3 linked regions of the Homo sapiens genome follow. The protein of the gene in region 3 purifies or fractionates together with the protein of the main gene of each other region. This does not show direct contact. Each region holds a gene or a part of one and is shown on either strand. Other genes may lie near its edges. The genes, in order: BOK, FRMD5 and IRAG1.

What was found.
Region 1: the proteins of IRAG1 (region 3) and BOK purify together in Homo sapiens (affinity purification with mass spectrometry; one large-scale study listed by BioGRID and IntAct). This does not show direct contact.
Region 2: the proteins of IRAG1 (region 3) and FRMD5 purify together in Homo sapiens (affinity purification with mass spectrometry; one large-scale study listed by BioGRID and IntAct). This does not show direct contact.

The regions. Positions count from the first base shown.
Region 1 is NC_000002.12:241,568,673-241,571,769, reverse strand, and holds part of BOK (bcl-2-related ovarian killer protein), read right to left. Parts: intron 1,646-3,097; coding exon 1,482-1,645; intron 1-1,481.
Region 2 is NC_000015.10:44,185,267-44,188,920, forward strand, and holds part of FRMD5 (FERM domain-containing protein 5), read right to left. Parts: intron 1-3,654. UniProt on the Homo sapiens protein: May be involved in regulation of cell migration. May regulate cell-matrix interactions via its interaction with ITGB5 and modifying ITGB5 cytoplasmic tail interactions such as with FERMT2 and TLN1.
Region 3 is NC_000011.10:10,572,555-10,575,789, reverse strand, and holds the end of IRAG1 (inositol 1,4,5-triphosphate receptor associated 1), read left to right. Parts: 3' UTR 1-2,695; downstream 2,696-3,235.

The sequences.
Region 1 (3,097 bases), on a different chromosome or scaffold from region 3:
AAGTGAATGAACGTCCAATTCTCTTATTCCCTTCACTTCCTGCTAATACATGAAGGCTTTTCCCTGCAGCCTGGACCTGTGGCCTTGGCGTTGCTCAAAGTGTCGTCGCCCACTGGGCACACAGTGCCCAGCCCCATGCCAGACTCCACAGGAGGAAGACAGGAGGGGACGGAAGTCTTGGGGTTTCTGTGCTGAGGGACACCTGTAGCCATGTGCGACATCTTGGGACATTGCCCTCTGCACCCCCAATTCAGCCTTCAGAGGAGACCACAGCCCCCGCAGACCACGTGACCTCAATCTCTCGAGATGCTAAAGCTAAGGCCCCAGCAGAGGGGTCTGAGCGCTGTCACCCCTGGCCGCTGATTTACACACCAGGCCAACACCCGCTGTACAGGAAAGAAGGCTAGACTCTCGGCAGGGGAGCCACCCTCCACACCCAGGGCCCAGCGGCAACTGCGGTCTGGCCGGAGCAGGGCAGGAAGTTGGGGGCGTGGAGACAGAGGAAGGGTTTGGCTCTGACACCCACCCCTCGGGGCCTTGCTTTTCCCACTCGGGAGGGCGGGGGCTGGGGCAGCGGGTCCTTAGCACAGGGGTAGGATCGGGGGTAAGTCAGTGCTGGATCTGGGCAGAGGAGAGTCCAGGGCCTGCCTGTAGGTCTCGGCCCTTGCCCCACCCCCTGCCTCACCCATCTCCCCCAGGAGTGCTCAGGTGACCACCCATCCGCCACTCCCTCCCGTACCTCTGCACCCTCGCACCCCAGCTCTCCCACCCCCACAGGCGCTCAGACACTCACCCATCCGCCACTCCCTCCTGTACCTCTGCACCCTCGCACCCCAGCTCTCCCACCCCCACAGGCGCTCAGACACTCACCCATCCGCCACTCCCTCCCGTACGTCTGTACCCTCGCACCCCAGCTCTCCCACCCCCCAGGCGCTCAGAGGCTCACCCATCCACCACTCCCTCCTGTACCTCTGCACCCTCGCACCCCAGCTCTCCCACCCCCACAGGCGCTCAGACACTCACCCATCCGCCACTCCCTCCCGTACGTCTGTACCCTCGCACCCCAGCTCTCCCACCCCCCAGGCGCTCAGAGGCTCACCCATCCACCACTCCCTCCTGTACCTCTGCACCCTCGCACCCCAGCTCTCCCACCCCCACAGGCGCTCAGACACTCACCCATCCGCCACTCCCTCCCGTACGTCTGTACCCTCGCACCCCAGCTCTCCCACCCCCCAGGCGCTCAGAGGCTCACCCATCCGCCACTCCCTCCCGTACCTCTGCACCCTCGCACCCCAGCTCTCCCACCCCCCAGGCGCTCAGACACTCACCCATCCGCCACTCCCTCCCGTACGTCTGTACCCTCGCACCCCAGCTCTCCCACCCCCCAGGCGCTCAGAGGCTCACCCATCCACCACTCCCTCCTGTACCTCTGCACCCTCGCACCCCAGCTCTCCCACCCACACGGGCACTCAGGCGCTCACCCATCCGCCGCGTCTCCGCAGCCAGGTTGCCAGGGTCTTGCGCACGAACTCCCCCAGGCAGTCCACGAGGGCGTGGACCATGGCAGGCTGGGCCTGCCTCACACAGTCCACGGCCAGCCCCGCGGCCACCGCATACAGGGACACCACCTTGCCCCACGTGATGCCTGCAGGGAGAGAGATGGTCAAGATCAGGACTTGAATCCCGCCCACGGGAGCACTTAAGGAAGGGGCTGGGCCTCTCTGAGCCGCTGTCCTGCTTGCCGTCCAGCTAATGACCAGGGACCGTCCCAAGGGGGGACCGCTCCCTGACAGGATGCCTGTCAGGTAGTTCTTGGGCAGGCAGGTTTCTCGGCCTCCACTGCACACCTGCCCAGCCCACGTCTGTGCAGGAGGCCGCAGGGACAACGTGGGGTGAGGCGAGGGAACTGAGGGCAGCAGCAGATGGAGTGAGCAGCCAGTGACCTCACGGGTGGCACCCCTGGGCTGCCTGTTCCCACAACAGGCCTGGCGTCCACATTTTACACATAAAGAAGCTGAGGCCCGCAGAGAAACTGCCTTCCCCAGACCCCTAACCTGCTGAGGCTGAACTGAGATGGGAGCAGCCTTGAAAGAGAGGACGAAAGATGGTGACAGCGGGGGAAAGAATAAAAGGCAGGACACGACGCCTCAACACGGAAAGACGTCTTATACGTGAGCGAGAAAAGAGAGGCTTTCAAAAAAGAACTATGAGCACAGAACTGGAACAGCTGATTCACAAAAGAAAATTATAATAAGAGACACGAAAAATGTTTACCTTCATTAATAACCAAAGAAAGGCAAATTAAAACAAAATGTAATCTGTTGCATTAAAAGCTTTTACGCCAGGCGCGGTGGCTCACGCCTGGAATCCCAGCACTTTGGGAGGCCGAGGCGGGCAGATCACAAGGTTGGGAGTTCAAGAGCAGCCTGACCAACATGGTGAAACCGTCTCTACTAAAAATACACAAAAAATTAGCCAGGCGTGGTGGCACGCGCCTATAATCCCAGCTACTCGGGAGGCTGAAGCAGGAGAATCACTTGAACCCGGGGAGGCGGAGGTTGCAGTGAGCTGAGATCGCGCCAGTACACTCCAGCCTGGGCGACAGAGCGAGACCCCGTCTCTAAATAAATAAATAAATACATGCTTTTAAATGGCAGTGTGAGGATTCAGGCCACTGCACAGCCTTGTAAACCTTGGTGGGAAGCCCAGCTTGAGGGCACTGGCAGTATCTGAATGGCCACAAAACATGCAGCCCAGCAGTGATCCCCGCAGGGAGTTAGCAGCGGTCCCCGGAGGGAGTCAGCAGTGGTCCCTGGAGGGAGTTAGCCTGAGGACACTGTACATGCAAAGATGAAGCACTGCTCTCCAATCCACCCTCATACAGCGGCCAACCTGGATTTGTTATGAAAACATAAATCAGCTCAAACAAACACTCAGTCACAGACATTCACAGCAGCCAATTCACAATTGCCAAAAGGTGGAAAGAACCCAAGTATCCTTCAACAGATAAATGGATACAAATGTGGTGGATGTTACTCAGCCACAGAAGGCAGGCTGGGCACAGTGGCTCACGCCTATAATCCCAGCACCTTGGAAG
Region 2 (3,654 bases), on a different chromosome or scaffold from region 3:
CTTATGTTTTTATCAGAGTTTCACTGCTCAACAGCCAAATTTCTTTTGATAGTATAACTTCCAAATGGCCTCCCGAAGAGCTGAGGGGCTATTCTGTTAGACAGATAAGTGTATACTGAGAAATTGCAGGCTTAATATGCCTTATAACATTCCAGGCATCATTGCCAATCCATGGAGTCCTTCTGACCTACAAACCTCCAATTCCATAATAACTTTGGGGCCTTTAGAGTCTTCTAGAGGCAAGGCCAGGCATGGTGGCTCACACTTGTAATCCTAGCACTTTGGGAGGCTGAGGCGGGTGGATTGCTTAAGGTCAGGAGTTTAGAAACCAGCCTAGCCAACATGGTGAAACCCCTTCTGTACTAAAAATACAAAAATTAGCTGAGCGTGGTGGTGCATGCCTGTAATCCCAGCTACTCAGGAGGCTGAGACGCAAGAATTGCTTGAACCCAGGAGGCAGAGGTTGCAATGAGCCGACATCATACCACTGAACTCCAGCTTGGGCGACAGAGTGAGACTCTTATCTTAAAAAAAAAAAAATGCTCTAGAGGCAAAAAATCTAAAAGAGGGCAGGCTAGATGCTTTCTCCATCTTAAATTACCTCTGGAAGTACATGAGATCCTTATGTGAATTCACTAATTCTGCTTTCTTGTGTTTTTTGTCTGTTTGTTTGTTTTGAGACAGAGTTTCTCTCTTGTTGCCCAGGCTGGAGTGCAATGGCGTGATTTCGGCTCACCCACAACCTTCGCCTCCCCAGTTCAAACGATTCTCCTGCCTCAGCCTCCAGAGTAGCTGGGATTACAGGCATGCGTCACCACACCCAGCTAATTTTTTATTTTTAGTAGAGACAGGGTTTCTCCACGTTGGTCAGGCTGGTCTCAAACTCCAGACCTCAGGGGATCCACCCACCTCGGCCTCCCAAAGTGCTGGGATTACAGGCGTGAGCCACCGCACCCGGCCTTTCTTGTGTTATGATCAATGTTCTTACCTGCTTGGTTCAAGTCTAACAAAACAAGAATCTTAGTGGCACCTCCTGCCTAGAGTATTTGGAATCCTTTGGAAATCCTGAAGCCAACTTTTCCACTCAGTATCCTCAAAATTAGACTGAGGCCCAGACTACAGGCCCTTGGGTTAAGTCAGGGTGTAGAGAAAAAAGGCTCTGCACCTGTCTGGAGGTGAAGGATAATTTGCCTGACTAAGGAGTGCCTGGATGGAGTACCAGACTATGAGGGTTCCTAATGATTTGGCTTTTTCCTGCTACAAGTTCACTGAAAGTGGCCAGACATTTGAGTGTGCCCTAGGGCATGCGGGTTTGATGTACCACTATTTATTTCAGGTCTTGGGCCTGTGGGCCTTTGCTAATTTTTCTGGCTCCCACAATACCACTTCACAGCAAGCCCCCTTAATCTCTCCAATAAAGTGGAGTGTCCGTATTGTCAGTCATCCCCTATTCATCAGTCTTTAGACTATCCCTTCTTTTTCTCCTTTTCCAGAGCAAAATAACCTATTAGCATTGGCATTCTGCCGAACACTGATTGCCCAAATGCCGAACAGTGCTTTCTTGGAGGTTCCCATCCCCAAAGCTCTAGCCTGGCATTGTGTTGAGTGCTAAAAGTACACCCTGTATAAGGCTGGGAACTTCGAAGCTGTCAGGGGTTCACTGGGGAATTCAGAGACGCAATCCTCGGTCCTCAAGAGAAGCTATTTTTGGTGGCCACTTAGGTTTGGGAACAGAGATGCTGAAATGTGCCTTTTAGGACTCCATGGGTCACATTTCTTAACTGTTAATGCACAATTGGGGCTGCACTGTATTCATCAAAGGATTTTCAAACATCGGCTAAATGTTACAATTTGATACCCTCTTTTTTGTCAGATGATTAAACTGATCCTGAAGAGAAGAGTCCTCTTGGAAATAAAATTCATATGTAGTTACTGCAGCCACAGAATGAAGATTGAAATCTGAATCCACCTTTTCTTGACATAATGCCATTGCTTTGTGAAGAATCTTAATTTGTGTTATACAATTTTAGAATTAGATTTAATTCAACACTAGCTTTATGCATTATTAGTTTAGATTGATTCCTCTCTGCATGTCAAGTATGATTGAAATTTACTGACAGGAATTTTCCCCAAGCAGATTTCTGTTGTTTGACTCAACTATACCAGAGTAAGTCAGATAAACATACTAAAGAAAAAAACTAAAGACTTTACATTTTTAACTTTTCCACTTAGAAGTAGTCTGCTGTTAACTCAGCCTCTAATGCTCTTTACGCATCCCCATGCCATTTTTGCTTTTGGCAATTTTTTTTTTTTTTTTAGGAGACAGCGTTTCCATCTGTAGCCCAGGCTGGAGTACAATGGCACAATCATAGCTCATTGTAACCTCAAACTCCTGGGCTTACAAAATCCTCCCACCTCAGCCCCCTCATGTAGCTAGGACTACAGGTATACACCAACATGCCAGCCTAAATTTTAAATTTTTTGTAGAGACAAGGTCTTGCTATGTTGCCCAGGATAGACTCAAACTCCTGGCCTCGAGGGATCCTCCTGCCTTGGTCCCCCAAAGCACTGAGATTATAGGCATAAACCACAGTGCCTGGCCCTGCTTTTGGCAATTTTTCATAACCTGGTTCAAATTTCATCTCCTTTGAAAAACAATTATTAATTTTGGAATCCCTCCCCATTTCCCAAACTCCAACCCAAATCTGCATTGCCACAACATATCCCCTTGTCTTAGCTCCAAATTCCATGATGCTTTATAGTTTGTTATTTACGTGTTTGCAATCCCTAAGTTGTAAGCCCTTCGACAACAGGGGCCTTGACTTTTCCTTTCCCCTAGTGCGTCAAGTTGTGAACAAAATTTATTTTTAAAAAATATACAAATATACAATAATCTACTGTTTTTAGGTCAGGAGAGACAAAAAATACTAACCAATAAATACAACAGCATCAAACTGGTATAATGACGCACTGCAGAATCTTTAGACTCCTACCCACTTGAAAATAGGTATGCATATCTGTAGACAACCTAGCATTTACCTTGCAAGGGAAGAGAATCTATTAAGACAATTCAGGAATAAATCAAAAGTTAGAAATGTGAGATTCCTTCTTCACCTCTCCCTCTCCCTCACATTTTACATCCAGTCAATCAACACTTGTCCATTTTACCTACTAAATATCTCTGTAACCCAGTAGTAGTGATTCTCAAACCTCAGCAAGCCTAAGAATCACCTGGAAGACTTGTTAAACAGACTGCTGAACTCCATCCCCGGAGTTTTTGATTCACTAGGTCTGGGATGGGGTCAAGAATTTGCATTTCTAACAAGTACCCAGGTGATATGGATAATGCCTATCTAGGGGCCATACTTTGAGAACCACTGCTTTATCCAATCCCTTATTTCATTTTCCATGCTTTGAGAGGCCTCACAATTTCTACTGAAGGAAAAGGGCCCCTGAATTGTGACATAGTAAAATGACTCAAATGAGGCATAAGAATAGCTAGATTTGGTCCTGATTTTGAATGGTTTTTCTTGGTGGGCAGTGGTTGTCTGAGGCTTTGAACTGATCTTTAACACACAGGAATGAGTTCTAGGCACTTCTGGAGTGGTCCAGAGCACCTCTAAATACGAAGCAGCAGATGAGGTCATGGTAATT
Region 3 (3,235 bases):
CTTTTTACAGAAGTAGGAAAGGCTTCTCAGAAAAAAAAAAAAAAGTATAGGCTGAATTTAGCTCAGTGCTTGAAATGGGAAGATATGAATTATTATATACGCATCTGTCCACACATACACACATACTGTTGTGTACACACACACAACATGCCTGTGCACAGAGCCAACAACCCTTCAAAAGTGTGCTCTGGGTGTGTACCTCTGGATAAATAAGATGCATGCCAAGCCAACCCACAGATTTTCACCAGTGTGGGGCAGTCACCAGGCACCTGTTCAATGAGCTGTCCACATGGATTGAAGATGTTTTAAAAACACAGAAAACTCATGGCTTCAATGGCAGACTTACTAGTCTCCATTTCAAATGCCAACTCTGAGCTGCTGTACAGCACAATCTATTCCCTATTCTCTCTTTGAAAACAGTTAACCCACCTCACAGGTGAATGAGGAGAGAAGATGTGCTTTCTGCTTCAGTCTCTTACTCTGTGTGTGACCACATGCAAGAGTAAACTTGCACCTCAGTGCTTCAGTTCAAATGGGGTTTCCAACCCCAGTATAATTAGGGGTGTTTCAGAGCATCCCCAGTTATTTAGCACAACACTGAAGGAGCACATCCCCTCTCCATTTTGACTTCTCTCCCCACTTTTACAGCCACTGCCTTCATCAGTTTTGTAGAGGTTTGATTTCCATGTGGGTTTTGTTGTCATTGTTTTGCATTTTTGTTTTGTTATTGATATTGTTTGCTTTCATTGCTAAAACTCATATACGACTTACTATGAGCCAAGCACTGTTCTCAGTATTACATAGGTATGAATTCATTTAAGTCCTGAAGAAAAAGAAAAAAAAATACGAAGTGGATATTACCCTTCCCATTTTCAAATAAGGAAACTGAAGCACAAAAAGAACAAGTAACTTGACAAGGACACCCCGGTAGTAAATCATGGGGCTGGAGCTCAACCCCAGGGTAGGCTGGCTCCAGAGCTGTGCTCTCCTTGACTCTTCTGATGGTCTCCTAGCTGGAAGCCTCACATTTCAGTCTCATTCCCCCAAGTGGCCCATCAGCTACTCCATCTCTGGCTCCCCAACTAAACAGTTTCTCTCATAGTGCTGGACCTCCACTCACTAGTTTTTTTTCCAGCTGTTCTTCTCTTTTCTTCAGGTCACTCTTCTCGACCGAGTGCAAAAATTATCCCCTCCATACCAGCTTTGATGACCTTCCTTCCATACTCCTCACCAGACACAACATAATAGGTCACACACTCCTCTGTGCTTTCTGGCACGTTTTAAACATTATTATTATTGACCTTTACCTATAGTATACCATGGCCTATTTATGTATCCATCTCCCCTAGCATTTTTCCTCAAAGACAAGAACCATGTCTTACCCATCTCTTGGGTAAGTGCCTAGCATGGTGGCTGACGCTTGGGAGGGTGTCATTAAATGTTGCTCAAAAGAACAAGCAAACATTTAAGGTGGTGGAGAGCAGCCTGGGGACAGCTGACATGCTGCATGCTTCTCAGTACCAGCACCATCACAATGCAAAAAGCAACATCTTTCTTAACCTCAGCTTATTCTGTTTTTCAGTCTACTCTGTGAGAGAGCAGGAATGAGACCAGACTAGCAACACCATTGCCAAGCTCAAGGACTGGGCTCAATGCAGTCACTCCTTCAGAGAGACCCCCCACCCCAAGCATGCCCCACTTTAAAATAGCATGTTTATTGAAGGGGGCATCCTTTACAGTAGCTAGAAAATGACTGAGGCCCAAGCCAGGGTTGATCAAGGATGTGCCATTAAGGTAAAGAGTTACAGAGCAGGGCAGAGGGACTCTGGGGGCAGAAGTGGATGATTTGCCCGGCCTCTTCCAGGGGGTCTGGATACAACTGAAGGAGCTTTAGCTACATGAGGCCCTCAGAGCCAAAGACAGGATGCAAATAGAGTTCTAGAGAGTGGCCGTGGAAGCAGAACTCCAGGTGGGGAATGTTCAATCTCTGCCTCCCTTAAAGCAGGGCCAGGCTCAGCTGGCCCCATTGTTCACTTGGTCACAAGTTTCCTACCTTTGTTTCTGGATGAGTCAAAGGCCAGGAAGGCAGTTATGGAGAGCTCCTGCACCTCCAGCTGCCCCACAGAAAAGCCTGCAAGAGTACTTCCAGGCACAGGCCCTCTCCCACCCTATTCCATTTGTAAGCAAGGGAGGTCGAGGAAAAGGACATCTCCAAAAGGGAGCATAAGAATAGCCATATATACAGGGGCTGAAAAAGTGCTCATGAGTCCATCTTTTCTGGAAAGCAAAGACCAGCCTGAAGCAGTGGGAGCTGCTGCCCAAGCGGTAGTGAACTGGAGAGAAACAGGCCCTGGATTTTCAGTGAGGATGTGGATCTGAAGAGTCCCCCAAATGCCTCTGAAGTCTGACATCTCTGCTTAGCCCTAGGAGTCTGGTTCCCTGCCTTCAGTTGCAGAGTGATGTGTTTGTGTCATTGTTGATGTCACCTCCTAAAAAGACCTTCACTTTCTGGCTGCCACAAAGCCATATGTGTTGCTCCCCATATACAGCCTGACAGAGTAAATGGAGAGGAAGTGCTGGATTTGTGTATCACTGGCTATCAGTTCCTCATGTTGTTAAGCCTCACACAGGTGTGCTAGCATTGAACTGTAGAGTGTCACATACCTGAGTTTGAAAATAAAAGCACATTTCCAAACCTCTGGCAGCAGCCAAATGCCTCCTCATTTTATGGAGTTGAATTACAGTCTTACCCCAACCCAGAATTAGATGCCTTTGGATATATTAGTGCATTCCAGAACCAAGTCAGAGGTCCCCAACCCTTGGTCGTTATACTATGGGCTACCTCACAGGGGCTGGATCAGTTCCTCCTCTTCCCTTCCCCATTCCTGATCCTGGTTTCCTGTATCTTCCTGGTCTATGATTTTTTTAATTAACACAGTTTGCTGTGATTGAGTCTGCTGAGTTTTTAACCAACCTGATTTCCACAGCTGAACTATTTTTGTCTTTCTTACAGCTAGCTGCAGGGGAATGTGGACTTTCCAAATCTAGTTCCCTAAAAATAAACTCTCCTGCCCAATACTTCACACCTTTTTTTACTCCCTTCTCTGCCTACCAAAGCCAGAGGATTCAGATGAGAACACTGAGACCCGAGAAAATGGCAGAACCACTAGACGGAAGCTGGGTCTTTGAATGAGCACTCCCAGTATTGAACTGTGACATGAATAAGAAATAAGAT